Regions from separate parts of the Homo sapiens genome. Here all the other regions are reported to be linked to region 1. Evidence: microRNA targets listed by miRTarBase, many of them from high-throughput screens and not tested one by one. Region 1 holds a microRNA gene; each other region holds the end of a gene's coding sequence.
The links. The annotated mature microRNA hsa-miR-5001-5p reads AGGGCUGGACUCAGCGGCGGAGCU and lies in region 1 at 3,769-3,792, opposite strand. An mRNA with a match to its seed (bases 2 to 7 or 8) in the 3' UTR can be bound and repressed. Matches are read on the target gene's strand: a 7mer-m8 pairs with bases 2 to 8, a 7mer-A1 pairs with bases 2 to 7 and ends in A, and an 8mer does both.

Region 2: the mRNA of FGF19 is a reported target of hsa-miR-5001-5p. Seed matches in the 3' UTR shown: 7mer-m8 at 1,576-1,582, 8mer at 1,676-1,683 and 7mer-m8 at 1,684-1,690.
Region 3: miRTarBase lists DMRT2 as a target of hsa-miR-5001-5p. The part of its 3' UTR that is shown has no 7-base or 8-base seed match.
Region 4: the mRNA of NCKAP5L is a reported target of hsa-miR-5001-5p. Seed matches in the 3' UTR shown: 7mer-m8 at 1,131-1,137, 7mer-m8 at 1,637-1,643, 7mer-m8 at 1,644-1,650 and 7mer-m8 at 1,651-1,657.

The regions. Positions count from the first base shown.
Region 1 is chr2:232,546,762-232,553,761 of GRCh38, forward strand. It overlaps MIR5001 (microRNA 5001), which reads right to left and starts at 3,812; the gene lies at 3,713-3,812. CHRNG (cholinergic receptor nicotinic gamma subunit) reads left to right here. Exons shown (of 12, transcript NM_005199.5): 12 at 1-1,354. TIGD1 (tigger transposable element derived 1) reads right to left here and starts at 3,796. Exons shown (of 1, transcript NM_145702.4): 1 at 1-3,796. The coding sequence starts at 3,121. The coding sequence ends at 1,346. It overlaps EIF4E2 (eukaryotic translation initiation factor 4E family member 2), which reads left to right and starts at 3,928. Exons shown (of 7, transcript NM_004846.4): 1 at 3,928-3,983. The coding sequence starts at 3,964. RefSeq lists a silencer at 3,939-4,308.
Region 2 is chr11:69,693,086-69,700,243 of GRCh38, reverse strand. FGF19 (fibroblast growth factor 19) reads left to right here. Exons shown (of 3, transcript NM_005117.3): 3 at 668-2,006. The coding sequence ends at 982. Among named protein-coding and RNA genes, the nearest start is that of FGF19, 7.4 kb to the left of the region's middle. RefSeq lists a silencer at 669-963.
Region 3 is chr9:1,056,024-1,063,181 of GRCh38, reverse strand. DMRT2 (doublesex and mab-3 related transcription factor 2) reads right to left here. Exons shown (of 4, transcript NM_181872.6): 4 at 5,630-6,966. The coding sequence ends at 5,909. Among named protein-coding and RNA genes, the nearest start is that of DMRT2, 9.2 kb to the right of the region's middle.
Region 4 is chr12:49,785,745-49,792,902 of GRCh38, reverse strand. NCKAP5L (NCK associated protein 5 like) reads left to right here. Exons shown (of 13, transcript NM_001037806.4): 11 at 1-225; 12 at 315-457; 13 at 852-1,751. The coding sequence ends at 1,064. Among named protein-coding and RNA genes, the nearest start is that of NCKAP5L, 39 kb to the left of the region's middle. RefSeq lists an enhancer at 1,314-2,156.

The DNA of each region.
Region 1 (7,000 bases):
TTGAAGTCCAGAATTCCTGACTCTGACCCAATCTGACACTCTAAGATTCTACGGCCTGAAAAACAGGCCCTTCTTCCCAAAGGATGGTTAAGACAAGGAAGAGCTAGGCAAGAGGAGGTGTGGAGTTAACAGAGAGCCACTGAGCTCTTCATTCCAGGAGGAGACTTTGACTGGCCTCCCTTGACCCCACTAATCAGGTAGTAAGGCTGGGGTCTTCCTGGGGGAGAGGCAAGGTCCTGCTCTGAGATTACAGCCGGCACACGAGTTTGGCTGGTAACCAGGGGACACCCTTGGGCAAGTCACCTATGCTCCCTGAGGCTGTTCCCTCATCTGTAAATAAGGTGCAAAAAATAATCCATTCCTGGCCAGGTGTGGTGGCTCACACCTGCAATCCCAGCACCTTGGGAGGACAAGGTGGGTGGACTGCTTGAGCTCAGGAGCCCACGAACCCAGGAACCCAGCCTGGGCAACATGGGGACACCCGGCCTCTACCAAAAAATACAAAACTTAGCTGGGCGTGGTGATGCATGCCTGTAGTCCCAGTTACTCGGGAGGCTGAGGTGGGAGGATCGCTTGAGCCCAGGAGGTCTAGGCTGCAGTGAGCTGTGATCATGTGACTGCACTCCAGCCTGATGACACAGTAAGACCCTGTCTCAAAAAAAATAAAAAAATTACAAAACTGAAAAAAGAAAAGTGAAAGTGCCACATAAAGGCCTGACGACAGGATATGCTGGCAGGAGGGGACCTTGGAAATATGCCCTCCCTCCAAGCACAGGATTGCTGTCTTTGGGATTCAATCACCAGCAAGTTCGTATTATTTACTCCAGTGTGAGTCTGTGTCTGTGCATGCACAGTGTGTTTGAAGCAAGAGCAGAGTCAGAGCTATAGAGAACTAGAGGAGTTAGGGAGAGTGGGGGAGAACTTCAATCAGGGAGGGAATCTGATGACAGTGGGGCCATTTCCGGTTCCCACCAGCCCCTTACTAGTTGTGTATCTGGCACAAGTCTCTCAACCTCTCTGAAAGCCTCAGAGGGCAGAGGATTAGCTCCTTGTACACAATAAACACTCAAATGTTAACATTAGCTGCCATTACTATAAGTTACTGTCTCATGGGATCCATACAGCAACCTAAGGAGGTAGGTCGAGGCATACCTCAAAGACATTGCAGGTTCAGTTCCAGACCAACACAAGAAAGCAAGTCACATGAATGTTTTTGGTTTCCCAATGCATATAAAAGTTATGTTTACACTATACTGTAGACCAGCAAGAGTGCAATAGCATTGTCTAATAAAACAATATACATACCTAAATTTAAAAATACTTTATTGCTAAAAAATGCTGATTATCAATCTGAGCCTTCGGTGAGTCGTACTCTTTTTGCTGGTGGAGGGTCTTGCCTCGAGGTTGATGGTTGCTGACTGGTCAGGGTGGTGGCTGCTGAAGGTTGGGGTGGCTGTGGCAATTTCCTAAAATAAGACATCGGTGAAGCTTTTCGCATGAGTTGACTCTTCCTTTCATGAAAGATTTCTCTGTAGCATGCGATGCTGTTTGATAGCATTTTGCCCACAGTAGAGCTTCTTTCAAAATTGGAGTCAATCCTCTCAAACCCTGCTGCTGCTTTATCAACTAAGTTTATGTAATATTCTAAATCCTTTGTTGTCATTTCAACAATGTTCACAGCATCTTCACCAGGTGTAGATTCCATCTCAAGAAACCACTTTCTTTGCGCATCCATAAGAAACAACTCCTCATCTGTTAAAGTTTTATCATGAGATTGCAGCAATTCAGTTACATCTTCAGGCTCTACTTCTAATTCTAGTTCTTTTGCTATTTCCACCACATCTGCACTTACTTCCTCCACTGAAGTCTTGAACCCCTCATAGTCATCAATGAGGGTGGGAATCAACTTCTTCCAAACTCCTGTTAATGTTGACAATTTGACCTCCTCCCATGAATCACGAATGTTTTTAATGGCATCTAAAATGGTGAATCCTTTCCAGAAGGTTTTCAATTTGCTTTGCCCAGATCCATCAGAGACATCACTATCCATGGCAGCTAGAGCCTTATGAAATGTATTTCTCAAATAATAAGACTTGAAGGTCGAAATTACCCCTTGATCCATGGGCTGCAGAATGGATGTTGTGTTAGCAGGCATGAAAATAACATTAATCTCCTCGTATATCTCCATCAGAGCTCTTGGATGACTAGGGGCATTGTCAATGAGCAGTAATATTTTGAAAGGAATCTTCTTTTCTGAGCAGTAGGTCTCAACAGTGGGTTTAAAATATTCAGTAAACCACGCTGTAAACAGATGTGCTGTCATCCGGGCTTTGCTGTTCCATTTATATAGCACGGGTAGAGTAGATTTAGTATAATTCTTAAGGGCCCTAGGATTTTCAGAATGGTAAATAAGCATTGGCTTCAACTTAAAGTCACCAGCTGCATTAGCCCCTAACAAGAGAGTCAGCCTGTCCTTTGAAGCTTTGAAGCCAGGCACTGACTTCTCCTCTCTAGCTATGAAAGTTCTAGATGGCATCTTCTTCCAATAGAAGGCTGTTTCATCTACATTGAAAATCTGTTGTTTAGTGTAGCCACCTTCGTCAATGATCTTAGCTAAAGCTTCTGGATAACTTGCTGCAGCTTCTACATCAGCACTTGCTGCTTCACCTTGTGCTTTTATGTTATGGAAATGGCTTCTTTCCTTAAACCTCATGAACCAACCTCTGCTAGCTTCAAACTTTTCTTCTGCAGCTTCCACACCTCTCTCAGCTTTCATAGAGTTGAAGAGAGTTAGGGCTTTGTTCTGGATTAGGCTTTGGCTTAAGGGAATGTTGCGGCTGGTCTGATCTTCTATCCAGACCACTAAAACCTTCTCCATATCAGCAATAAGGCTGTTTCGCTTTCTTATCATTCGTGTGTTCATTGGAGTAGCACTTTTAACTTCCTTCAAGAACTTTTCCTTTGCATTTACAACTTGGCTAACTGTTTGCCGCAGGAGGCCTAGCCTTCGGCCTATCTCGGCTTTTGACATACCTTCCTCACTCAGTTTAATCATTTCTAGTTTTTGATTTAAAGTGAGAGATGTGCGACTCTTCCTTTCACTTGAGCACTTAGAGGCCATTGCAGAGTCATTAATTCGCCTAATCTCAATATTGTTGTGTCTCAGGGAATAGGGAGGCCCAAGAAGAGGGAGAGAGATGGGGAACGGTCTGTGGGTGGAGCGGTCAGAACACACACAACATTAAGTTCCACGTCTTATAAAAGACGCTGTATGTGGCACCCCAAAACAATGACAATAGCAACATCAAAGATCACTGATCATAGATCACCATAACAGACACAGAAATCATGAAAAAGTTTTAAATATTTTGAGAATTACCAAAATGTAACACAGAGACACCAAGTGAGCACATGCTGTTGGAAAAATGGCGCTGATACAATTGCTGGACTCAGGGCTGCCACAAACCCTCCATTTGTTTTCAGAATGCCCTATCTGCGAAGCGTAATAAAACGAGGTATGCCATAGTACAGTGGCGCCGCGACCGACAAAGGAAAGCCTCCGGGAGGTCAAAAGAGATACCAGAGAGTGCGTCCCGCACTGGAGGAAGAGGAAGGTTTTTACCAAGCAGCGAGTCCAGAGCCCGCGCCGTCAACGACGCGGTGCTGCCTTTTTTCCGAGCCGCTGCGGGAGGGGGCCAGGACACGCTCCCTTAGGAGAGCGGGCGGGTCACAAGGACCTGGACAGAGGCAGAACTGAGGCCAGCAGCCAGCTCCGCCGCTGAGTCCAGCCCTCTGCGCAGCCGCCCTGAGCTGGCGTCCCGAGATAGCCGCTTCCAAACCGGGCCTGCGCGCCGACGTTCCGCTGCGCCCCGCGCAAAACCGGAAGTACCCGGGCCCAAGGCTGAGGGACCCGGTGGAGCGGAAGTCACTCCCTGAGGCAGTGGCGACAGCGGCGGCGAGAGGATGAACAACAAGTTCGACGCGTGAGTGGCTCGTGGCCGCCCCCGGGGCCCCTTCCCCGAACAGTTCCCCCGCGCCCGCCCCCGCTGGGGCTGGGGCGGCGCAAACCCTGCGGCACCGGCTTCCCTGCTGGGATCCGGCTGCGGCCGGACCTGGCCTGGACTGGCGGGGAGGAGGGGGCTGGGGAGCAATGGATACCGGAGTCCCGGAGACCCCAGGGCCGTCCGAACCGAGGGCGAAGAGCTGGGCCCGGGGGAGGGGTGGCTGTGCCGCCCGGTAGGGGGAGATTTTCGGACGCCCCGCCCTGGTGGATGCGGATTGCCTGCGACGTGGAGGGGTGGGGACCTCGGCGGTTTGGGTGTTTCCGCAGTCTGGCAGCGCTGCCTCTGAATCCAGCTTTCCCCACACACTCCCTCTCCCCTCTGAGCCTCAGTTTTCTCATCTGCAGAGTGGGGACGGTAACACCCTTTGTCGTAGAGTTTGGAGGATGCAATGAGGTAATGTGGTTGCTGCCCTCGACGCGGTGGAAGGCTGGCTTAGGAATTATCTTCCTGAGACTCTTCCTACTTTCTTTCTCCTCCCCTTCCCGTTCCCGTCTTCCAACACACTCGCCAAGACCTAAGTATACTTGTTGCCCTCTCCTGCCCGCTCCGGTTTCTAGTTTCAGCATCAAACAGTTTGGAGGTACAGAGAGAAAATGCAGAAGTATCTTTACTTATCCCCCTCCAAGGATTGTATCTTGAGGTAGAATATGTTCCTTCCTCTCTTCTAGTAGTCTAGTAAATCGACTGTCTCTTCATCCGAAAACCTGGATTTCTAGTCCCAGATTCACCACTTACCATCTGTTTGACTGTAGAAAAGTTACCCAGCCTCTAAGCCATTGTTGCTCAAACCACATTAGTGGCTAGGACCCTGCTGCCACGCCGGGGTGTGATAAGGGTCAGATCACACTCAGCGATGCTTAAAGATGCTTGTGAACATTGCTAACTATTGCGATATAAACGTAAAGTGGAATTACTATTAGTTTAGGTTGTGACCTGGTGCTTTTGATGGGAAATTGGGGTGTTTCCAATACAGAGAGTACTGTGCAAATTCAGGGAATACTGGATTTCCAACACTCCAGGCAGGTAGGTCCTCAGGAATGTTTTCTGGTTGCTGAGAGGTCTCTGCTACTTGAGAAAGTCTTTGCCCGACCTCTTCTCTATCCTGCTGTTTAACTGAGCCTGTCCCTCTACGAACCTCTCCCCCGCTGCCGCCCCATTTCATCTCTATTGTAAACCCTGCAACAACTAGCTCCAGATCCAAATCCTGCCTCAGTGGAGCTTTCTGGAACCCTTATACCCCTTCCTCCACTGATTTGAACAAATCAAATGTCATCCTAAGAAGACATCTTATGGGTCATCTAGCTCAAGCCTACCCAAATCATTTGGGAGTCTGCAGTAAGAATGGTAATAATGGACTTCCACAGGGATCTTGCTAGGTATTTTTCATATATATATATATTTTTTGAGACAGGGTCTCGCTGTGTCACCCTGGCTGGAGTGCAGTGGTGTCATCACAGCTCACTGCCCACTCAACCTCCCGGGCACCAGCAATCCTCCCATCTCAGCCTCCAGAGTAGCCGGACTACAGGCATGTGCCACCCTACCTTGCTAATTTTTTTGTATTTTTTGTAGAGACGGGGTTTCGCCATGTTGCCCAGGCCGATCTCGAACTCGGGCTCAAGAGATCCACCCACCTTGCCTCCTAAAGTGCTGGGATTACAGGCATGAGCCACCACCCCCAGCCTCATATGTTATTTCTACTCTAACAATTCTGTGAAGGGGATCTTGTTGTCTCCTTTTACAGATGAGGAAAGTGAGACTCTGAGGTTAACTAATTCCCGACACAAAGGAAGGGCTATCCCAGGTTTGTTGTGTAACCTTGGTTCAAGCACCTCTTGAGAAAAATTAAACTTGCCCTCTTTTTTTTTCTTACCTCTTCTACGATTGAAGAACCTGGGTCATTTTAATTACTTTGAATTATTAACTATTGTATTGAGCCAGAATCTTTTAACATCTGCCCTCTAGCATTGCAGGAAAAAAAAAGAAAAACAAGCTTTCTTTCATTTGAAATTAGCAGTTGAAAACAGCACTCCTGCCCCTAGTTTTATTTTTTTATGTTGTTTTTCATTCAGAAATTCTGCGGTGTTTAGGCCATTGCTGCATATTTGGAGTCTTTACCACATTGCTCTCTCTAGTAATCTGCACTTTTTACCACATTGCTCTTAAGGACATGTTCCAGTTTGCCAGAATCCTTCCAGATGTCCAGTGGCTGGAGCTGAGTACAGTAGTATATAATCTAATGGGCTCATATTAAAGATTAGCTCTAATCTCCGTTACTGTATGGACTCAACTTCTCTGAATGAAACCTTTGATTGTAATTGCTTTTGTGGAGAAGGGGTAGACCTATCAAGTCCTTAGATCTCATTGCCATTGATCCTATTGATAACGTAAAACCGTAAGATGCTTTCACAAAAACTGCAGTCCTGACTTAAACATAGTTTTCAGATCTACACAACTGTACTTGATTTTGTCCGTATTCTACATCATTTGCTTTTTATTCTATATCGTTAACTTTGGGCCCATTCCTAACTATTGTCTAAACCACTTATTTGGCACTCATTGCTTTGATTCTATAGACCCATTCATTAAACGGAGATTTTTTTTTATGCCACTGTCTGATGGTGAGGGTATAAAGATGAATTGAACCAAGGTCCTGCCCACAAGGTATTGGTCTAGTTCAGAGGGTGAGGAAATACGTGGGCAGAAGCTTAGCAAGCTAACTAAAGTGCCTCTCAGTCTGGACAGTCTCAGAGTTGCTAACTGCCTGAGTTTAGGGAGCACTGATTTTTCAGTCTGAGTTGTATCTTGACTCAAATCCAGCTTGAAGCTGGGAAGAGTAGCTTGTAAGATTTGCCTTAAATGTAGGCTTAGAGGGCAGAGTGGTTGGTTAGTTCCACTCTCAGGTAATAAAAGCACCAGATATAGGTCCATTAGGG
Region 2 (7,158 bases), not on the chromosome of region 1:
TATAAAGGTATATAAATGTATATTTAATTTATTAATGGGTTATATATTAACATAATGTACATATTATATATGCTTACACTTACAGTACATTTATATATGTGTGTGTGTTCTCTGTGTATATATATAGTTGTGGGTTTTTTGTTTTGTTTTTTTTTGAGACAGGGTCTTGCTCTATCACCCAGACTAGAGTGCAGTGGCATGATCATTGCTCAGTGCAGCCTTGACTACCCAGCCTCAACCCATCCTCCCACCTCTCAGCCTCCCGAATAGCTGGGCCTACAGGCGCCCACCTCCATGACCTGCTAATGTTTGTACTTTTTGTCAAGATGGAATTTTACCATGTTGCCCAGGCTGGTCTCAAACTCCTGGATTCAGGTGATCCATCTGCTCTGGGCCTCCCAAAGTGCTGGGACTACAGGTGTGACCTACTGTGCCTGGCCTTAAAGTACATTATATATTATATATACTTACATATATAAAGGTATATTTTATATATACTTACACGTACAGTGTGTACATCAGGAAGTATGTATAAAACATGCAAGTGATGCTTATGTGGAAGGTCACTGCTGGTGGCCACCAGGGACAGTCTGTAGCACAAACGTCCATGTGGACCCGTGTTCCCTGTCCACTGTGGATTGCTCAGAGCTGCCTGTTTTCTCTGCAGCTTCAGTACTCGGAGGAAGACTGTGCTTTCGAGGAGGAGATCCGCCCAGATGGCTACAATGTGTACCGATCCGAGAAGCACCGCCTCCCGGTCTCCCTGAGCAGTGCCAAACAGCGGCAGCTGTACAAGAACAGAGGCTTTCTTCCACTCTCTCATTTCCTGCCCATGCTGCCCATGGTCCCAGAGGAGCCTGAGGACCTCAGGGGCCACTTGGAATCTGACATGTTCTCTTCGCCCCTGGAGACCGACAGCATGGACCCATTTGGGCTTGTCACCGGACTGGAGGCCGTGAGGAGTCCCAGCTTTGAGAAGTAACTGAGACCATGCCCGGGCCTCTTCACTGCTGCCAGGGGCTGTGGTACCTGCAGCGTGGGGGACGTGCTTCTACAAGAACAGTCCTGAGTCCACGTTCTGTTTAGCTTTAGGAAGAAACATCTAGAAGTTGTACATATTCAGAGTTTTCCATTGGCAGTGCCAGTTTCTAGCCAATAGACTTGTCTGATCATAACATTGTAAGCCTGTAGCTTGCCCAGCTGCTGCCTGGGCCCCCATTCTGCTCCCTCGAGGTTGCTGGACAAGCTGCTGCACTGTCTCAGTTCTGCTTGAATACCTCCATCGATGGGGAACTCACTTCCTTTGGAAAAATTCTTATGTCAAGCTGAAATTCTCTAATTTTTTCTCATCACTTCCCCAGGAGCAGCCAGAAGACAGGCAGTAGTTTTAATTTCAGGAACAGGTGATCCACTCTGTAAAACAGCAGGTAAATTTCACTCAACCCCATGTGGGAATTGATCTATATCTCTACTTCCAGGGACCATTTGCCCTTCCCAAATCCCTCCAGGCCAGAACTGACTGGAGCAGGCATGGCCCACCAGGCTTCAGGAGTAGGGGAAGCCTGGAGCCCCACTCCAGCCCTGGGACAACTTGAGAATTCCCCCTGAGGCCAGTTCTGTCATGGATGCTGTCCTGAGAATAACTTGCTGTCCCGGTGTCACCTGCTTCCATCTCCCAGCCCACCAGCCCTCTGCCCACCTCACATGCCTCCCCATGGATTGGGGCCTCCCAGGCCCCCCACCTTATGTCAACCTGCACTTCTTGTTCAAAAATCAGGAAAAGAAAAGATTTGAAGACCCCAAGTCTTGTCAATAACTTGCTGTGTGGAAGCAGCGGGGGAAGACCTAGAACCCTTTCCCCAGCACTTGGTTTTCCAACATGATATTTATGAGTAATTTATTTTGATATGTACATCTCTTATTTTCTTACATTATTTATGCCCCCAAATTATATTTATGTATGTAAGTGAGGTTTGTTTTGTATATTAAAATGGAGTTTGTTTGTATCAAAAGGTGCATTCTATTATCCGCCTAGAATGTTAGGGAGGGTGGGGAAGGGGCTGGTGGGGGGCAGCACCGTCCACGGGAGGAAACCCTCGGTGTGTCTGCCCTGGACACCAAAAGCTCGGGTGGGAAGTTAGCGGGTTTGGGCCAGCCAGCTCTAGTGGTGGAGGCTGGTTTGGGCCCTGCTGTCCTGCCCTTTCCTCATGCCTAGGGGCTTGGCTTCCTCAGTCCACCTTCTCTCTAGCAGTCTCAGTGGTTAGGGCGGCCTCTCTGCCAGGAGTGTTTTTGGCTGCAGGAAACAAACACCAAGGAACAGCGGCCTAAGTGAGGGCCTCTCGCCCTCAGCACTCTTCCCTGGGGAAAGACGTTCCTGCATTTAACAGTGCCCCCCCCACCCCCCACCATTAGATGCCTGTAGAAACCCTCAAGTTGTGACAACCAAAATACCTCCAGAAGTTGTTGCATGTTCTTAGGAGGCAAGATCACCCTTAACGGAGGACCACTGACCGGAGCAAATAGGATTTCTTTTTGTCCAGCCACAAATCCAGAGGGACCCAGTGACCCAGCGATGCCTGGGCTGTGCCCTGTGTGATTCCCTTGGTGTCCCTGTCCTGCTGGGGCCTCGTCTCGCCAGGGCTGCTGTGGCTTCAGCTGAGCGCCCTGTACTCAGGGAGAGGGAATCATTTCGGGCTGGGCCTCTCTCATCAAGAAAGCCAAAACTTCCTTAGAACCTTTCAGCAAATTCCGGCTACATCCTAAGAACCAGGTTTGCGTCACAGGACCAGGCCAGCCCCAGCTGCACGGCAGGCTGGGAAGGCAAGAATTAGCGGTCAGGGTGACCAGATGTGGGCCACATCCTGAGTGCAAGGAGGAGCAGGTGCAACCGGACACCAACGTGTGCATGAAACATGATTCCAAATGAGCATTTGCCAGGGATTAGGGATGGTGGAGGGAGTCGGGGAGGAGGGTTGGGTCACTCAGGGCAGTAGTTCCCAGGTGCTTACGTTGGCAGCGAGGGGGGTAATGTCGTTGTTCAAGTCTACGAAGGCTATTTCAGGTGAAGCCTCCCTGCTCTCCAGTAAAAGGGACCTCCACTTGTCATTCTCACTGATGACATGCCCAGGACATCTAGAGTTAACCCTTGGGGCGTTCCCTGTCTCCATCTGCCAATCAAGATGCCCCTCTCACTCTTTGGTGTCCTTGTCATGTAACCATGCTGATTAGAGAGCTGACAGGCAGGGCTGGATGATGCTTGTGGACACAGCCTTCTCTACCCGTGGCAGGCGCCAGACAGGAAAGGCACTCTCCTGGAGCCACACAGCCTGGAGGCAGCTCAGGGGCTGTGGGCAGGGCCCTTTGATTGCTGTGTGACCTTGAGTAAGTCACATCACCCCTCTGAGCCTGCATCCTTCTGCGGACATGAGGTTAACAGGGTCTGCATGGTAGGGCTATACAGAAATCCAGTGAAATGATGTCTGCGGGATTCCTGGCACAGAGCCGGCTGCCTATCCACAGCAAACCTCACCAAGGATAGAACCATGTGTCCTGAGCTATTATGTCCACTGGATCTCAAATTTGGCTGCACATTGAAAAAAAGATGATAGCTGGAAACCACTCATGGAGATTCTGAGTTTTTTGTCTTTCTTTCTTTCTTTCTTTCTTTCTTTCTTTCTTTCTTTCTTTCTTTCTTTCTTTCTTTCTTTCTTTTTCTTTTTTTTTAGACAGTCTCACTCTGTCATCCAGGCTGGAGTACAGTGCACAATCACTGATCACTGCAGTCTTGACCTCCTGGGCTCAAGGGATCCTGCTGCCTCAGCCTCTCAAGTAGCTGGGACCACAGACCCATGCCCAGCTCATTTTTTTTTTTTTAATTTGTAGCAATGGGGTCTTGCTATGTTGCACAGGCTGGTCTCGATCTCTTGGGCTCCAGAGGTCCTCCTGCCTTAACCTCCCAAAGTGCTGAGATTATAGGTATGAGCCACCGTGCCCAGCTGAGATTGTGATTTAATGGGAATGGGTGTGGTCTGGACACTGGGATTTTTTAAAAGCTCCCCTGTGGGCCGGGTGCGGTGGCTCACACCTATAATCCCAGCACTTTGGGAGGCCGAGGTGGGTGAATCATGAGGTCAGGAGATTGAGAACATCCTGGCTAACACAGTGAAACCCCATCTCTACTAAAAATACAAAAAATTAGCCAGGCATGGTGGCAGGCGCCTGTGGTCCCAGCTACTTGGGAGGCTGAGGCAGGAGAATGGCATGAACCCGGGAGGCAGAGCTTGCAGTGAGCCGAGATTGCACCACTGCCCTCCAGCCGGGGCGGCAGAGCAAGACTCCTTCTCAAAAAAAAAAAAAAATCTCCCCTGTGGTTCTAGTGTGCAGGGAACCAGTTCAAATTCCATCCTTTGTGCTCTGAAGACCAGCACTTCAGGGAGAAAATGAAGAAAGAGGCTTATCAGCACCTCCCTCTCTGGAGTCTTCTCCCTTCTGCACAGCTGAGGATAACAAGTGAATGTACGTAAACTAATTCACACTAGACTGTTGATGGTTAATATGTTTGCTCTCCAGGCCACATTTTTACTGACCTGGCAGCTGCAAAACCCTGATGACAGACCGTGGGTGATGCGGGCATTCTGGCAGGAGATGGGGAAGATTATTTTTCTGAGGCTGCATCTTAGCATCCACCCTACCCCGACTCTTCCCCTACTCCTCATAAAGAGGTAGCCTTGCCCTCTTCCTGCATCCCCTCTCCCTGCTTTAGATAGCGTTGCCAAATACATAAAAATACAGCATCTGAGCTACATTTGAATTTCAGGTGAGCAATGCATTTCTTCAGTAGGAATGTGTCCCATGCAATATTTGGAACATATGTATACTAAAAAGTTATTCATTGCTGATTTCAAATTCAAATCAAATCGGGTGTCCTGTGTTTTGTCTGGCAAGCCGAGCTTTAGGCCCACACCACGGACATGGAGTTAAAAATGAGAGAAGACTGGAGCAAAAAACTGTTTCCGTTGAACAAGACTCTCTGCTGGTGAGACTCCAAAATGGAATTCAAAAGATCCCAGGGACAGGGAGGCCTTGAGTGAATCCCACTCTTTCTTCGGGCCTGTTTCTCCATCTGTAAAGCGAGAACCTTTTCGTCGCCTCAAGGCCTGTTGACTCCTGGGGATTCTGGCAAAGTGCCCAGGGGCTGGGAAAGGCCTCTTAACCAAGGAGGGGGCTGGAACCCGCCACCCCGGCATTAGGACTCTTGTGGTCGCAGGTGACAGAAAACACAACTCAAACTGACTTGAGGTAGGAAAAACAAGGGAACTTATTGGCTCACCTTTACTGAGAAGGCCAGGAGGTGCCGGGCTTTAGGCATGCGGGACCTGGGAACCGGCACCACACCAGGCATCATCTGTCTGTCTGTCCATTTTCAAGCATCTTTTCCCTTTGTAGTGACAAGATGGCCCCAGCAGCCTCAGCCGAGATGATGGACAATTCTCTTCTCTTACCAACAACTCCAGCAAGAGCCCCAGACTGGGTCTCAGGGATCCTTCCTGTGTCCCTTGTTCGTCCCAACTGGGCACAGGAGGCTCTGACCAGCTGGGCTGTGTCCCCTTCTGTAGCCCGGGGAAAAATCAGCCCTCGTGGGATGCTAGGACTAAGAAGGGGAGAGACATTTCCCCAGAGGAAAACCCACGGCACAGGTATTCCCCCAGGTTCCTACAGTTCACTATCCACTGGGCGACCTTCCCTCTTTGGATTGGGAAATGACAGCCAAAAATGTTCTACAAGACCAAAGAGGAGAGGGAGTGGGTGGGGCAGGGCCACCCAGATGCAGAAATTGTCCATTCAGTTATGGAGGACATGAGACAGCATCCTGCCTGCCTTAGTCTCATACTCCCTCCCCCACTGTCAAGGTGACCAAAAAGGAACCTCAATTAGGGGAGCGAGGAGAGAAGGTGTACCTTTTGCCACTAGAGGCAAAGAAAGAGAGACAGACAGACAGACACTGAGTTTTACAATACAGCCATGCGCCCCATAATGATGTTTCAGTTAACGGTGGACCACATATACAATGGTGGTCCCATAACATTAAAACTCCATATTTTTACTATGCCTTTTCTATGTTTTTAGATATGTTTAGATACACAAATACTTACCATTGTGCAACCTTTGCCTGCAGTGTTCAGAGCAGTACCGTGCTGTGCAGGTGTATAGCCTAGGAGCAATCAGCTGTACCACATAGCCCAGGTGTGCAGCAGGCGACACCATCTAGGGTTGTGCGAGCACACTCTATAATGTTCGCACAATGGTGAAATCACCCAGCGATGCATTTCTGAGGACGTACCCCATTGTTAGCATTGCATGGTTGTGTACATACATGACTGCCTGCATAAGGCACCACGGTCTGAGGCTATCAACAGCTCAACATTTTGAGTGAAATGCAAGAGCGTTACCTTTACTTAGGTCTCTTTCTCTCTCCACTTTTAAATTATCATTAAGTCTTTCCTCTGCCTATATTGGGCACCACATCAGATGCCATGATTTTTGGTGTCAGGCATCAAAGATGATTGTTAAAATGCGTAAGAAGGACAATCTTGTATTTTTACCCCTATTTTTAATCAGTCCGATATTCTTCTTTCCTTTCTGAACTTCAAAGCCTATTTAGAGAACTTCCTTTGAACATTTTCTTTTCTTTTCTTTTCTTTTTTTTTTTTTTTTTTTTAAGATGGAGTCTCACTGTGTCACCCAGGCTGGAGTGCAGTGGCACAATCTCAGCTCACTACAGTCTCTGCATTCCTGGGCTCAAGAGATCCTCCCACCTTATCCTCCAGAGTAGCTGGGGCCACAGGCACATACTACCATGCCTGGCTAATTTTGTTCAGAGATGAGGTTTCCCTATGTTTCCCAAGCTGGTCTTGAACTCCTGGAATCAAGCGATCCTTCCACCTTGACCTCCTAAACTACTGGGATTGCAGGCATGAGCCACTGCACCCAACCCTTCAGGCTGGAGTGCGATGGCGTGATCTCAGTTCACTGCAACCTCCGCTCCCTGGGTTCAAGCGATTCTCCTGCCTCAGCCTCCTGAGTAGCTGGGATTACAAGTGCCTGCCACTGAGCTTGGCTAATTTTTGTATTTTTTTTGTACAGATGAGGTTTCACTAT
Region 3 (7,158 bases), not on the chromosome of region 1:
TGTTGTATATTGGAAAGAATTCCCAAATTTGTAAACATATCCACAGACATATAGATTCATCTCTTCATATGGCCATTTACCAAATTTCTATAGAATTTATGTGAGGAATATAAAAAATGATAAATGTCAATGTGCTCTGTAAATTGCCAGGCTCTAAACATATGTTGTTATTTCACATTTACCATTATAGCAAATGCCAACCTATTTATAGGTGTGCAGTTGTCCAGCATGCCCTAGATGTATTTAGACATCACAAGTTACAAACTAAAAGAACTAAGGGGGTGGAATGTGATAAAAGCTTTGTATAATTATTAAAATAAATATAAGAGGATGCCAAAGGCCCAAGTTTATATAATGCAAGGTCCAACCATTTCATGAACTATCAGCCCTACAAATTGGACCCTACCCATGGAAACAAGCCTAAGTTTATAGACATAGAATAGGAATATTAAAATTAATCCAAAATTAATGAAATCAGGTGAGCCACTAAGAATTCTAGTCCCTATTGAAAACTCAGCCTCGACACTAAGTCTTATCCATTATTCTACAAGGAAGCGTGGATTCTCCTTATTTCTTCATCTTGACCTTCAGCCATTTTCTCAGTTTAGCACTTCTGAGGCTTTGCAGAAGGAATTCCAGAAAGTTTGTTAATACAAGTTACAGTCTTTCATTACACAATTGGAATTAAGCTTTTAAATGAAGATATCATTTAAGCTCATACTAAAAGGTACACAACTGATACTGGAGCCTTTCTGGGCAACAACAGTGTTGAGTGGAAATGGTCCACACACTGCAGGAGAGGGGATAGTTGGGAGGACTGTATACCTGAGATAACTCAGTTCCTAAGGACAGGAAGCAGGTGAAACTCGGAAGTGAGAACAGGGTGAAGAGAAGGGGCATACATACCAAAAAGAGCTAAAAGCAGGGTTTCAAAGAACTATTTGGACATCCTTGTTCATGGCACTATTATTTAAAATATCTGAAAGCTGGATTCAACCCAAGTGTCTATCAACAGATTACCAGATAAACAAAAATGTATGTGTGTGTATGCACTGTATGTGTATGTATGTGTGTATATATACATATAAACACATGTGTATGTATGTATATATGTCTACATGTACACCGTTTACACTCATACGCACAGTATTCCACTGTGTTTGTGTGTGTATTTATGTATGTGTGTGTCTGTGTGTATATATATACATATATATAGTGTGTGTGTATATATATGTATAACATATATATACAGTGTGTGTATATAACTTACCTAATTGATTAGTTTGGAGTCGGAAAAGTACCTTACATAAGGAAAATACCTCATATAAGTAAAATAAGCCAATTGGATTCCCTTAATGGGATTAAAATGATACAGAGAGAAAGGACAGAAAAGAAATTCCCATACGTTCATTGAATACAAAAGAGAAACATCTTACAACTATTAGCATTCAAAATACAAAAATGGAGAAAGTAAGAGACAAAATTCATGTTTAGATTAAGAAGCCTTCTCACTGAGATTTTTTTATGTGGTTTTATTCTAATGGCTTTCCCTCATTACCTTTGAAGCAGCTTAAACACACAGACATACACACATATACATACAAACACACGCAAACACAGTGGAACACTACTCAGTCTTAAGCAGGAGGAAAATTCTGACACATGCTAGAACATAATAAACCTTGAGCACATTATGCTAAGTGAAATAAGCCAGTCACAAAAAGACATATAATGTCTGATTTTACTTGTATGAGGTACTGAAAAAACACAATACTGTATGATTGCCCTTTATGAGGTACTTAGAGTAGTCAAATTCACAGAAGCGGAAAGTAGAAAGGCGGTTGCTGGGAGGGGAGGGAGTTACTGAGGGTATAGAATTTCAGTTTTGCATGATGAAAAGCGTTATGTGGATGGACGGTGGTGATGACTGCACAATGTGAATGTACTTAATGTCACTGAACTGTATGCTTCAAAATAGTTAAGATGGCAAATTTTATGTTTTCCCACAGTTAAAAATAAAAGATACATATTATATTTTTAACCAAATTAAAACAACTTCTACCTTTGTGAGAAAAAAAAAGAGACGGTGGGGAGCAGGCACTGTCTGCTGCATGACTTGCCTGGGTCTTGGCCTAGGCTCAGTAAAAAGGAAAATGGCAGCCAGGCGTGGTGGCTCACAACAGTAAGCCCAGCACTTTGGAAGGCTGAGGCAGGTGGATCACTGGAGGTCACGAGTTTGAGAGCAGCCTGGCCAAAACGGTGAAACTCCGTCTCTACTAAAAATACAAAAATTAGCCTGGCGTGATGGCAGGCACCTGTAATCCCAGCTACTCAGGAGGCTGAGTCAGGAGAATCGCTTGAACCCAGGAGGCGGAGGTGGCAGTGAGCTGAGGTCACGTCACTGCACTCCAGCCTGGGCAACAGAGCGATACTCCGTAAAAAAAAAAAAAAAAATTTGGTTTTTTAAAACTATTTCTGTATATTAACTTACTCATGCTAGTAATATTATGATGATTGCATTACAACTCAAAATCCACAGCAGATAATATTAAATGTGCGTTGAAATACCAGAAATGCTGCAAGCATTGTTACTCAAAGTGTGGCCTGAAGCCCAGCAGCATCGGGATTCTCAGGTGGTTCAATTGTCCATTAGTTTGAGAAGCACTGTTGTAAACTTTCGAGAACTGCAAATTCAGCTAACGATCATGCTTGATGGGTTGAGATGGAAGGATAACATGTCATTAGAGTTGTATTATTGTATTGTGAGTTAAATTGAGAAAAATGTCCACGTTTTACTATCCTTTACATTCTCGAAAACTATTAAAACTGTATCCATTTATTGCCTTCGATAGAGAAAATGCTTAAATCGAATCCCAAGTTTGATTTAATGTCAATGGCAGTGTTTTCTGAAGATTCTATATGACACGTTCATGGAAGTGAAATGATTTTCAAAAGCAAAGAGCCAAGCACAAAGCTCTTAACAAGTGGCTGACGGTAGATTTGGTAGTTTTTTTTGTTTGTTTGTTTGTTTGTTTTTTTGAGACGGAGTCTCGCTCTCTCGCCCAGGCTGGAGTGCAGAGGCGCGATCTCGGCTCCCTGCAAGCTCCGCCTCCCGGGTTCACGCCATTCTCCTGCCTCAGCCTCCCGAGTAGCTGAGACTACAGGCCCCCGCCACCGCGCCCGGCTAATTATTTGTATTTTTAGTAGAGACGGGGTTTCACCTTGTTAGCCAGGATGGTCTCGATCTCCTGACCTCGTGATCCGCTTGCCTCGGCCTCCCAAAGTGCTGGGATTACAGGCGTGAGCCACCGCGCCCGGCCTTTGGTAGTTTTAAAATTCAAAGAACTCATTACAGCAGAACTAATTCATAGTATAATAATAAGTTTGCCAGGGGAAGTAGTGACCCTCATAAATGTTCAAGAACAATAAAATTCTGGTCACTGGTAATGTGAGAAAAACCACTAATACCCACAGCCAACTGGATTCACATAATGGGATTAAAATGATACAGAGAGAGAGGACCGAAAAGAAGTCCCCATGTGTTCACTGAATACAAAAGAGAAACATCTTAACAAATATAAGTATTCAAAACACAAAAGTGGAGCAAGCAAGAGATAAAATTCATGTTTAGATGAGAAGACCTCTCACTGAGATTTTTTATGTGCTTTTATTCTAATACGTTCCCCCTCATTACCTTTGAAGCAGTTTAATTAAATGCTAAGGATACATTTAACACTTGAAACAAAAAAGTAAATTTCCAATAGAAAGACAAAAATTAGTGATTATAGACAAAGCAGAGACGACTGGGAGGGAAAACTGGAGTTAGATTCTGTCTCTGACATCAGGGCACACTTGGCTGGAAAACATTTTTCCGCTTAATGATAATCTTTAAAAGTTATTGGAATCTCTGCCTGTTTTCAAATCCTTTGCCTCTGGCAAACGTCCATTCACTCTGACTTTTGCAATAATACAAATAACTAAATTTGACTCAATAAAACCAAGTATTATTTTACAAGTACAAACTGAAAGTCAACCCAAGGTTTGGCTTGTTGTTTTTTGAAATTGATGCTAATTTTAAGCAACAATTCAGAGAATCCCAGGAGGTTTACATGAGGTCATTAGTAGCAAAATCATTTCTAAGTAATTCAAAGTGTTTTCACACTGCTGAATCACTTGGCATCTTCCACATACCCACCTCATGTTCTTGTTACCCAGAAGACAGTAGCAGAATTTGACGTAAAACCTCCCTCTGTGGCGGTATTAAAAGTGAGATACGTGACTCTTGATTTTTTGTATTAGAATGACTATGACACCTTAAACTTCACTTGGGGTCCACAGGTGAGGTCTTAAGAGATGAACTTAGTACTCTCATAAAAGTCTTACTCTTATTTTATCAATTATATGGAACAACAGCTAACATTTTACTGAGTAAAACAAGAGATTAACAAGAACTTAAAAATGGGAGAAATGGTGGGTGTGGTGGCTCATGCTTGTAATCCCAGCACTTTGGGAGGCCAAGGCACGAGGATCATTTGAGACCAGGTGTTCAAGACAAGCCTGGGAAGCATAGGGAGACCCTGTTTCTACCAAAATTTTTAAAAACTTACCTCTGCACATATTCCAAAAATAATAATAAATTTAGAAATTGGCCAAGCATGGTGGTGCATGCCTGTAGTCCAAGCTACTCAAGAGGCTGAGGTGGAGCCTGGGAGGTGGAGCCCCTTGAGTAGCTGGGACTACAGGCATGCACTTGAGCCTGGGGAGGTCGAGGCTACAGTGAGCCATGATCACACCACTGCACTCCAGCCTTGCCGACAGAGTGAGACCTTGTCTCAAAAAAAAGGGGGGGTGGGGGGAGAAAAGGTGTAAGAATTAAGAAGCCACCCTCATGCTGTGATAAACATCTGCAAGCTTCAGCAACTGTCAGCTGAAGCAATCTGAATACTAAACGTTTTTGTGTCAGAAGAGAGTTACACTGAAGGCCTTTGACAGTGGTGCAAATGTGGGAGGCATAAAGCTGATACTTGGGGACCGGATGAGAGTTGTGACTGGGCCTGCATCCAAATGCCTGCTGTCACCAGTGATTCAGAAACAGTGGACTCACACAAGAGCTGAGAGGAGGTTTGGGCCCCATCAGTACTGACCACATCTTAAAAGGAAACCTGATTTGTGGCTCCTAGCAACCTAAAATCATAGACTGTTCAAAGAAACTAGAAATGTTTCTAGAAAGGAAGCTTAGGGCCCCACATAAACATCCTCGCCAGGGAAAGAAACTGGGACCCAGGGAGTCAGAAGAAATCTATTCCAAGAACCCAAACCATCTAATGTAATGTAAAAGAGACATTACACTTGATTTCCCTTCCAATTAATTCAGCTTTGTCCAATCACGTGAAATGAAGATACTGTAAACATGCAAATGGCCCTATGTTCTCCTTAAAGTGATTTTTGCCTCAAACAGTCTCGAATAATTAAATTTATGTGCCCTCCACAATGCAAAACTAAAGTATTATAAAGGTTTTCCTGTGGCCCCCAGTGACCATTAAGAGTACTTCAAAATATACAAATATACAGAATCATAGAAAAATAGCTTCTTCATCTAGACAGAGACAGCTATTTGCTTCGGCAAATATTGGGTCTTTGAGAAGACAGTGTCAATTTTATTGCTTTTTGAAATGCTGTGTAAAGTGTGGTACTTAACAATTTGCACATTGGGCAATTTCCATCTGTAAGTTTAAATATATGTGATAAGAAAAAGTACATGCATATTAGGAATATATAAAATTTTTCAAAATCATCATCTTTACATTAGAAATTTCTTTACACAAACATCTTAACTTTTAAAAAAAGTAGCAAATGGCTATAATGCTCTAAGACTGCAGAAAATCCAGCTTTCTGTTTAAGCAGCCTTTCACTGAGAGACACGAGTGATGGCAGATGAAGGCCTCTTAAGAATAGACTCAACAGAAAATGACAGTGGTTCATTCACCGAGAGTTTTGTTCCAACTTGTTTGGCTACAAAAAGGTCTTTTGCACATCTATCTATTGTAAATGTGTACTTCTGGTTGTCCTTAACTAAACACTCTCTGTGTTTCTTAGGGGTCTCTTCAAAGGCCTCTTTGACAAATGGTGTTTTCAACTCAGGACCCGATTTGTCAGTAAGTGTTTGCTGGAATAATGAGTGGAATGGATTATGTCTAAGTGGCAGAGGGTGCCTGGTGTTTTCTTTGCTGATCTTCGTTAAGACATGCCCTTGAGCTGCCAGGGAGTCCGTGTCAACAATGGGAGAGAAATTCCGTCGGGGTGGGGAGAACGCGGACCTCTCTGGGACAGCCTGATGACCCTGAAGGTCACTTCTCGTGGTCTGGATCTCAGGAGTGTGAGGCAGCACCAGGGAACCTTCCAATTTCGATGGCATCATGTCCTGCTCTGCACTGAGTCCATCCTGGACTCGTGCTCCCTTCAAGTCCCAGCTGGCCCCAGGCTTCAGGGCTTGAACTGAGGTGGTGGCATTTAGCAGGCATTGCTGGTAGAGGAGGGTGTCGCTAATGGGGCCACACTTGGGCCAAACTAAAAATCTTGAGGACAAGGGATACTGTCTATAAGTTGTGGCCACGCTGACATTAGAAGAAATTAGTTCCATATTCCCAGACCCTGAATACTGCATGGTTAAATCAAGGCAGGTGGGCAAAAAATTACAGAAGTCCTTGCTTGGTGGTTCCACTGGGCTGGGGCTGTAGGCACTTTTGTAGGAATTGTAGTCAGGTCCAGGCACCATGCGGTTGGGCAGAAACAGAGCAGCAGCTTGAGAAGTTTCCAACATCTCCCTTTCTTTATATTCTCTCTCCAGCATAATGTTCTCCAACTCTTTATCAGCAAAGGCTCTTCTTTTCCTCATCCTGTCACTAACTGGGGGAGGTAGAGGGAAGGTCCCTCCTACATAAGTCTCCGCTGGAATGGGGCGATAGCCTACAAGAAGCAAAGATTGCACATGAAAGAGATTAACATCTACGGAATAAAAATGTGGAAACCCAGAAGGTAACAGCAACACTACAGATCAGCAGAACAATTATTTACAGTTCCATCTCACTGATATTTTTATACAGATGCAAAAGTACAGATTAGGTTTGAAAGAGTTTCCTGGGAGGGTGAAAGATATCC
Region 4 (7,158 bases), not on the chromosome of region 1:
AGAATCTTCCTAAGACCAAGCCACCGCGGCTGGATCCCCCACCTGGGGTACCCCCAGCTCGGCCCCCACCCCTTACCAAAGTCCCCCGCCGCGCCCACACACTGGAGCGGGAGGTGCCAGGCATAGAGGAGCTGCTGGTGAGTGGGCGGCACCCCAGCATGCCAGCCTTCCCTGCACTGCTACCCGCTGCTCCGGGCCACCGGGGCCATGAGACCTGTCCTGATGGTGAGTGTCCAGGTGGGAGGGTGGGATGCCCCTGGGCATCCTGGAGCTGCCCAGGCAGCTCCATCCACCTTCCCTTTGTTCCTGGACAGATCCCTGTGAAGACCCAGGCCCCACCCCTCCTGTCCAGCTGGCCAAGAACTGGACCTTCCCCAATACTAGGGCAGCCGGCAGCTCCTCGGACCCTCTCATGTGCCCACCCCGACAACTGGAGGGGCTGCCCAGGACCCCCATGGTGAGAATTGCAGCAGAGGAAAGGGAAAGGACTCGGGAGCAGGAGGGAGTGATGTGGGGAGACCAGTTTCTCCAGTAAGGTACGGCCTGTGTGTCGCACAGTCTCAGTGCTGCACCCTCTGGGAGGAGGACCCCTGGGATGCCCTGTGAGCGGCCCTCCCCACTGCCCTCCTTGCACTTCTCTCGTGGGGAAAGGTTTCTGTCCCTCCCCAGAACCTTGTAGGACTGTTCTCAGTTGTACCTCCAGCCTGTTTCCTCTGAAGTATACCCCACCTTGGGCCCCCTCTGGAGCAGCCCCCCATCAGGTGCACAGACGCCCCTCAGAGCTCAGTGCCTCTGAGGCTGGGCCGAAAGGTGGAGAGGAGCTTCCTCCCGAGCTGCCCCTCCTTTCCCAGGCCCTGCCCGTGGACCGGAAGCGAAGCCAGGAGCCCAGCCGCCCGTCCCCTACGCCCCAGGGCCCACCTTTCGGGGGTAGCCGCACCCCCAGCACTTCGGACATGGCCGAGGAAGGCAGAGTGGCCAGCGGGGGCCCCCCAGGGCTGGAGACCTCGGAGTCTCTCAGTGACTCACTCTACGACTCGCTGTCCTCTTGTGGGAGTCAGGGCTGAGGGGCTGCGCCACGCCACGGCCCCGCTGGAGCTGGGGACCACAGACTGGACCGGCTCTCTTCATGCCCAGCCCCCGGAGACGGGGACCCCTCCCTGAAGGGACCAAGGAGGCAGGTGGATAAGAAGGTGAAAAGGGGGTCCCTGGCACACCCCACCACCCACTGCTTCGGCGGATGAGATGACCGTGCTCAGCTCAGGGAGAGACCCCGCCCTTGGTCCCTTCTCTCACCCAGAGTAAGGCTCTTCCTGGAAGGGACTGGGGGTTAAAGGCCACTGTGTCGCAGCCCTCCAGTCCCTACTTCAGGCTGAGCCATCTTGTGGTGCTGGGCTTCCTGCCCACCAGCCGTGCCATCTCTGCCCAACCCGGCTGCTCCTCTGCCCCGAAGCCCTCGCGAGGCCCTCCTGGAGGCCCCCGTGCTGGTGGAGTTTGGGGGCCAGGGGGACAAGTTGCCTTCTCTCTCTGCCCTGGTCCTCCCTGCTGTCTGGATGGTGCTGCCCTCCTCTGCCCCATGCCTTTGGGGTCTGTTCGTCCGTCTTTTTTGTTGTTGTTTTTATATATTGAAGCGCCTGGCCCAGCCCCCAGCCCCCAGCCCCGCACTGCGGTTAATTTATGTGTTGTTTAAAATGCGGCTGCTCTGCTTCCTGCCTCTGCTTCTGCCGTATCCCTAATAAAATGTGGAGGCCCCCTCCCTGCCCCTGAGTCGGCTTGTTGTGTGGGAGGACTCAGGCAGGCCAGGTCGGGGGACACTGCATGGGTGCCAGGTTGAGGGACCCCAGGCCCCCTTGTGACACAGCCCCCTCACCAGGGCAACTGGCTGGAGTCATCCCAGAAGGTAACTGAGGGTTGGGAGAGTAGGGCCTGCTTAGGCCCGGAAGGGTATCTGGGCTCGGAGAGATTCTCCTGGGCCAGGGCTTGGGCACGGCGCGAGGCTGGGTGGCCCCTTGGAGAGGGAGCTGGGGAAGATGGCTGTGGACATGCACTCAGGCCCCACGTGTCCCAGGCTGGGGGGGACATGCAGACTCTGAGTAGAGTTGCATCTCTTCTCCAGACCTTGGTTTTCCTCCTCTATAGAAGATTAGAAAGTTAATCCAGACGAGCTGGTCCCATCAGCCAGACTTTCTTCTCAGCATTCTCCTCTTCCTACCCCTTCCCCAATTCTCTTCCTACCCCTTCTTAGTTAATATCATCATTGAAGAAATTAACAAGACGGAGAGTGTCAAGTCAGATGTCTGGGTTTTTTTTTTTTTTTTTAAGTCAGTATCCCATTTTCTTACCTCTTGTCTTCTACTTCCAGATTCCTATCCCACTGTCCTATCTTTTCTGCTTTTATGGGCTTAAGCATAATATTACCAAGCTGTAAATCTGCTTCTTGCCAGGTGGGCTTCAAGAGGTCTACCTCCTTCCCACTTTTTATTTCTTGGTTTTTCAAGCCCTCTTCTCTGCTTGAACTTGGTAGATTACCTCATTTCCTAGTTAGAACAGAATTGTTTGCCTGCAGGATATTTCTCCTATTTCCTTCTGGGGAAGGAGTTTGGCATAGTAGGTTTGATGCAGGACTCCACCTCTTTCAAGCTGAGACCAGAGGGTCCATCCGCATTCTTACCACCAGGGTCTGATCCATCTGCCTAGGCTTTATTCTCTGGTGTTTGCAAATACAAGGCGTCACCTTGGTTTCCAGGGCAATGTGGGCTGACTGACCAAGGCAGGGCAGGTGGCATCAGTCACACCTGACGCCTGGAGGCAGCCATTGCCTACCAACTGTTCCATGGTGGGAAACTTCCTAAATCCCCCAGCATTCTGCTAAGAGACCCTGGATCCAGATGAGCCACCCCACAGCCTACATAATTGTGTGCCCTTCACACAGACCCAGTATTTTATCTAAAATGATTCTGTGGAGGAGGACATGCAGTTGAGTTTAAAGACACTCCTGGGGAATCAATTTCTTGCACTTCAAAGAAAGGTTAGGCTAAAAGACCATTTGATCCTTACTAAGGCAGAACACTTCATATCTCAGTTTGCAACATCTTCCTGCAGAATTCAGGTAAATTCACTGTTTTCTCCAAGAATAATAGGTGAATGTTTGCCTTTGCAATGTGCAAGACCCATTCTGCTGGATTTTCCAAACAAAGGAAGACAAAACTGCCAGGCCACCTCCCCCATCCCCCAAAATGGCATCAAGGCATCAGCAAAAGATTATGACAAGGCTTCAGGTTCAACTTCACTGGGCACTTTGCCTTTTGCAGGAAATGTCCCAAAAACATTAACTCAAGTTTTCTCTGGGTAGCCAGTGGGTTTTTTTTTCCTTCTTTACCCTTTTGTAGATTTCTACAAATAGTGTGCTTTGTTTTCTTTAAAAAAAAAATTTTTTTTTGTAGAGATGGGGTCTCACTATGTTGCCCAGGCTGGTCTCAAACTCCTGGCCTCTCCAAGTTCTGGGATTACAGGTGTGAGCCACTGCATCCAACCTGTTTTGTTTTCTTTATCAAAAAAAGTTTTAAGGCCGGGTGCAGTGGCTCACGCCTGTAATCCCAGCACTTTGGGAGGCTGAGGTGGGTGGATCACGAGGTCAGGAGATCTATACCATCCTGGTTAACACAGTGAAACCCTGTCTCTACTAAAAATACAAAAAACTAGCCAGGCGTGGTGGCACGCGCCTGTAGTCCCAGTTACTCCAGAGGCTGAGGCAGAAGAATTGCTTGAACCCAGGAGGCGGGCCTTGCAGTGAGCCAAGATCGCGCCACTGCACTCCAGCCTGGGCGACAGAGTGAGACTCCGTCTCAAAAAAAAAAAAGTTAAAAAAAATTTTTTCCCGAGACTATAGAAATGCTCACCTGTATTAACTTCAAATTCATGTGGCCTTAAGTAATTTATTTATATGCTTGAACTAACTCACACAGGATTACAGAATGAGGGTATATATCTAGAGTTTGCTGCAGAGAATAATTGTTTCTCGTTTAAAACTTTTTTTTTTATTTTTTTGAGACGGAGTCTCTCTCTGTCACCCAGGCAGGACTACAGGCTCCTGCCACCACACCCGGCTAATTTTTTGTATTTTTAGCAGAGGTGGAGTTTCACCATCTTAGCCAGAATGGTCTCAATCTCCTGACCTCGTGATCTGCCCACCTCGGCCTCCCAAAGTGCTGGGATTACAGGTGTGAACCACCGTGTCTGGCCCCTTAAAAGGTTTTTAATTGTTAAAGGAATAGAAATTATAGAAGTATATGTTCCCCAGGCACAATGGCTCATGCATGTAATCCCAGCACTTTAGGAGGCCGAGGCGGGTGGATCACCTGAGGTCAGGAGTTCGAAACCAGCCTGACCAACATGGAGAAACCCCATCTCTACTAAAAAATACAAAATTAGCCAGGCGTGATGGCACATGCCTGGAATCCCAGCTATTCGGGAGGCTGAAGCAGGAGAATCACTTGAACTTGGGAGGCGGAGGTTGCAGTGAGCCAAGATTGCACCATTGCCCTCCAGACTGGGCAACAAAAGCAAAACTCTGTCTCAAAAAAAAAAAAAAGAGTATATGTTCATGGTTTTTAAAAAAAGGAATTGAAATTGAATGTTATAACTAATTATCAGGGAAATGCAAATCAAAACTGCAATGAAATACCACCTCACTCTAGTTAGAATAGCTCTTATCAAAAAGACAAAAGAAAACAAGTGTTGGTGAGGATGTAGAGAAAATAGAACCCTTACACACTGTTGGTGGGAATGTAAATTAGTACCTCTATTAAGGAAAACTGTGGAGGTTCCTCAAAAAATTAAAAGTAGAGCACTATATGATCCAGCAATCCCACCAGTGGGTAAATGGAGGTATCTGTACTCCCTTGTTTATTGCAGCACTGTTCACAATAGCCAAGAATTGAAGTCAACCTAAATGCCAGCAATGGATGAATGGATAAAATGTGGTATATCTACACAGTGGAATACTATTCAGCAATGAAAAAGAATGATATCCTGTCATTTGAAACAAATTATTTGAACCTGAACATTATGTTAAGTGAAATAAGTCAGACACAAAAAGACAAATACCACATGTTCTCACTGATACGTGGAATCTTAAAAAAAAGAAAAAGAAAAAGCCGATCTTATGGAAGTATAGAGCAGATCAGTGGTTACCAGAGGTTGCAGAGCCAGTGGAGGAGAGGAGGTTGAGGAGAGGTTGTTTGGAGGTACAAAACTAGATAGGAGGAATAAGTTCTGGTGTTCTATTGCACAGTAGAGTGACAATGGTTAACAAGAAAGTATGGTATATTATTAACAAAATAGAAGAGAGGGTTTTGAATGTTCTCACCACAAAAAAATTACAAATTCATAATGAGATGGCTGTCCTAAATACCCTGATTTGATCACTATACAATGTATCCATGTATGCAAAAACATCACATTGTACCCCATAAGTACATACAATTATAAAGTGTCAGAAATTGAAAAGAGGCCGGTGAGGTGGCTCACGCCTGTAATCCTAGCACTTTGGGAGGCTGAGGCAGGTGGATCACGAGGTCAGGAGATCGAGACCATCCTGGCTAATATGGTGAAACCCCGTCTCTACTAAAAATACAAAAAGTTAGCTGGGCGTGGTGGTGGGCACCTGTAATCCGAGCTACTTGGGAGGCTGAGGCAGGAGAATGGTGTGAACTCGGGAGGCAGAGCTGACAGTGAGCCAAGACCACGCCACTGCACTGCAGCCTGGGTGACAGAGCAAGACTCTGTCTCAAAAAAAAAAAAAAAAAAAAATTGAAAAGAGGCTGGGCACTGTGGCTCACATCTGTAATCCCAGCACTTTGGGAGGCCCAGGCAGGTGTGTCACGAGGTCAGGAGATCAAGACCATCCTGGCCAACACAGTGAAATCCCTTCTCTACTAAAAATACAAAAATTAGCCGGGTGTGCTTACGTACGCCTGTAGTCCCAGCTACTTGGGAGGCTGAGGCAGGAGAATCACTTGAACCCGGAAGGCGGAGGTTACGGTGAGCCGAGATCATGCCACTGCACTCCAGCCTGGCAACAGAGCGAGACTCCATCTCAAAAAAAAAAAAAAAGAAAAGGAAAAGAAATGGAATGTTATACAAGGAAAAAAAGGGGCTGGGCATGATGGCTCACACCTGTAATCCCAGCACTTTGGGGAGCCAAGGGAGGAAGATCACTTGCACCCAGGAGTTTGAGACCAGCCTGAGCTACATAGTGAGACCATGTCTCTACAAAAAAATAGAAAATTAGGCCAGGGCTGTGGCTCATACCTGTAATCCCAAGCACTTTGAGAGGCCAAGGCGGGCAGATGACTTAAGGTCAGGAGTTTGAGATCAGCCTGGCCAACATGGTGAAACCCCATCTCTACTACAAATACAAAAATTAGCTGGGCGTGGTGGCGCATGCCTATAATCCCAGCTACTTGGGAGAGAATCGCTTGAACCCAGGAGGCGGAGATTGCAGTGAGCTGAGATCACACCACTGCACTCCAGCCTGGGCAACAGAGCAAGACTCTGTTTAAAAAAAAAAATCAAAAATTACCCAGGCATGTTGGTACACACCTGTAGTCCCAACTACTTGAGAGGCTGAGGTGGGAGGATGGCTTAAGCCCGAGTGATTGGAGCCTGCAGTGAGCAATGATCATGTCACTGCAGTCAGCCTGGGTGACAGAGTGAGACCCTGTCTCAAAAAATAAGTAAAAAATTAGCTGGGCATGGTAGTATGAGCCTGTAGACCTACATACTTGGGAAGCTGAGGTGGGATGATTGCATGAACCCAGGAATTTGAGGCTGTAGTGAGCTATTAGCATCCGACTACATTTCAGCCTGGGCAACAAAGCAAGACCTTGTCTCTAAAAATTAAAAATAATTTAATAAAAAACAGAAAAAAGGAAAATCCCCTTCATACTGCGCCCTCAGTTTCATTCCACAAGCAACCTGAGTTAATTGGTTATCCTTTCGGATGTTTTTATTTATTTTTATTTATTGATTGATTTTTGAGACAGTCTCGCTGTGTCACTTAGGCTGGAGTGCAGTGGCGGGATCTCGGCTCAGTGCAACCTCTGCCTCTCAGGTTCAAGTGATTCTCATGCCTCAGCCTCCTGAGTAGCTGGTATTACA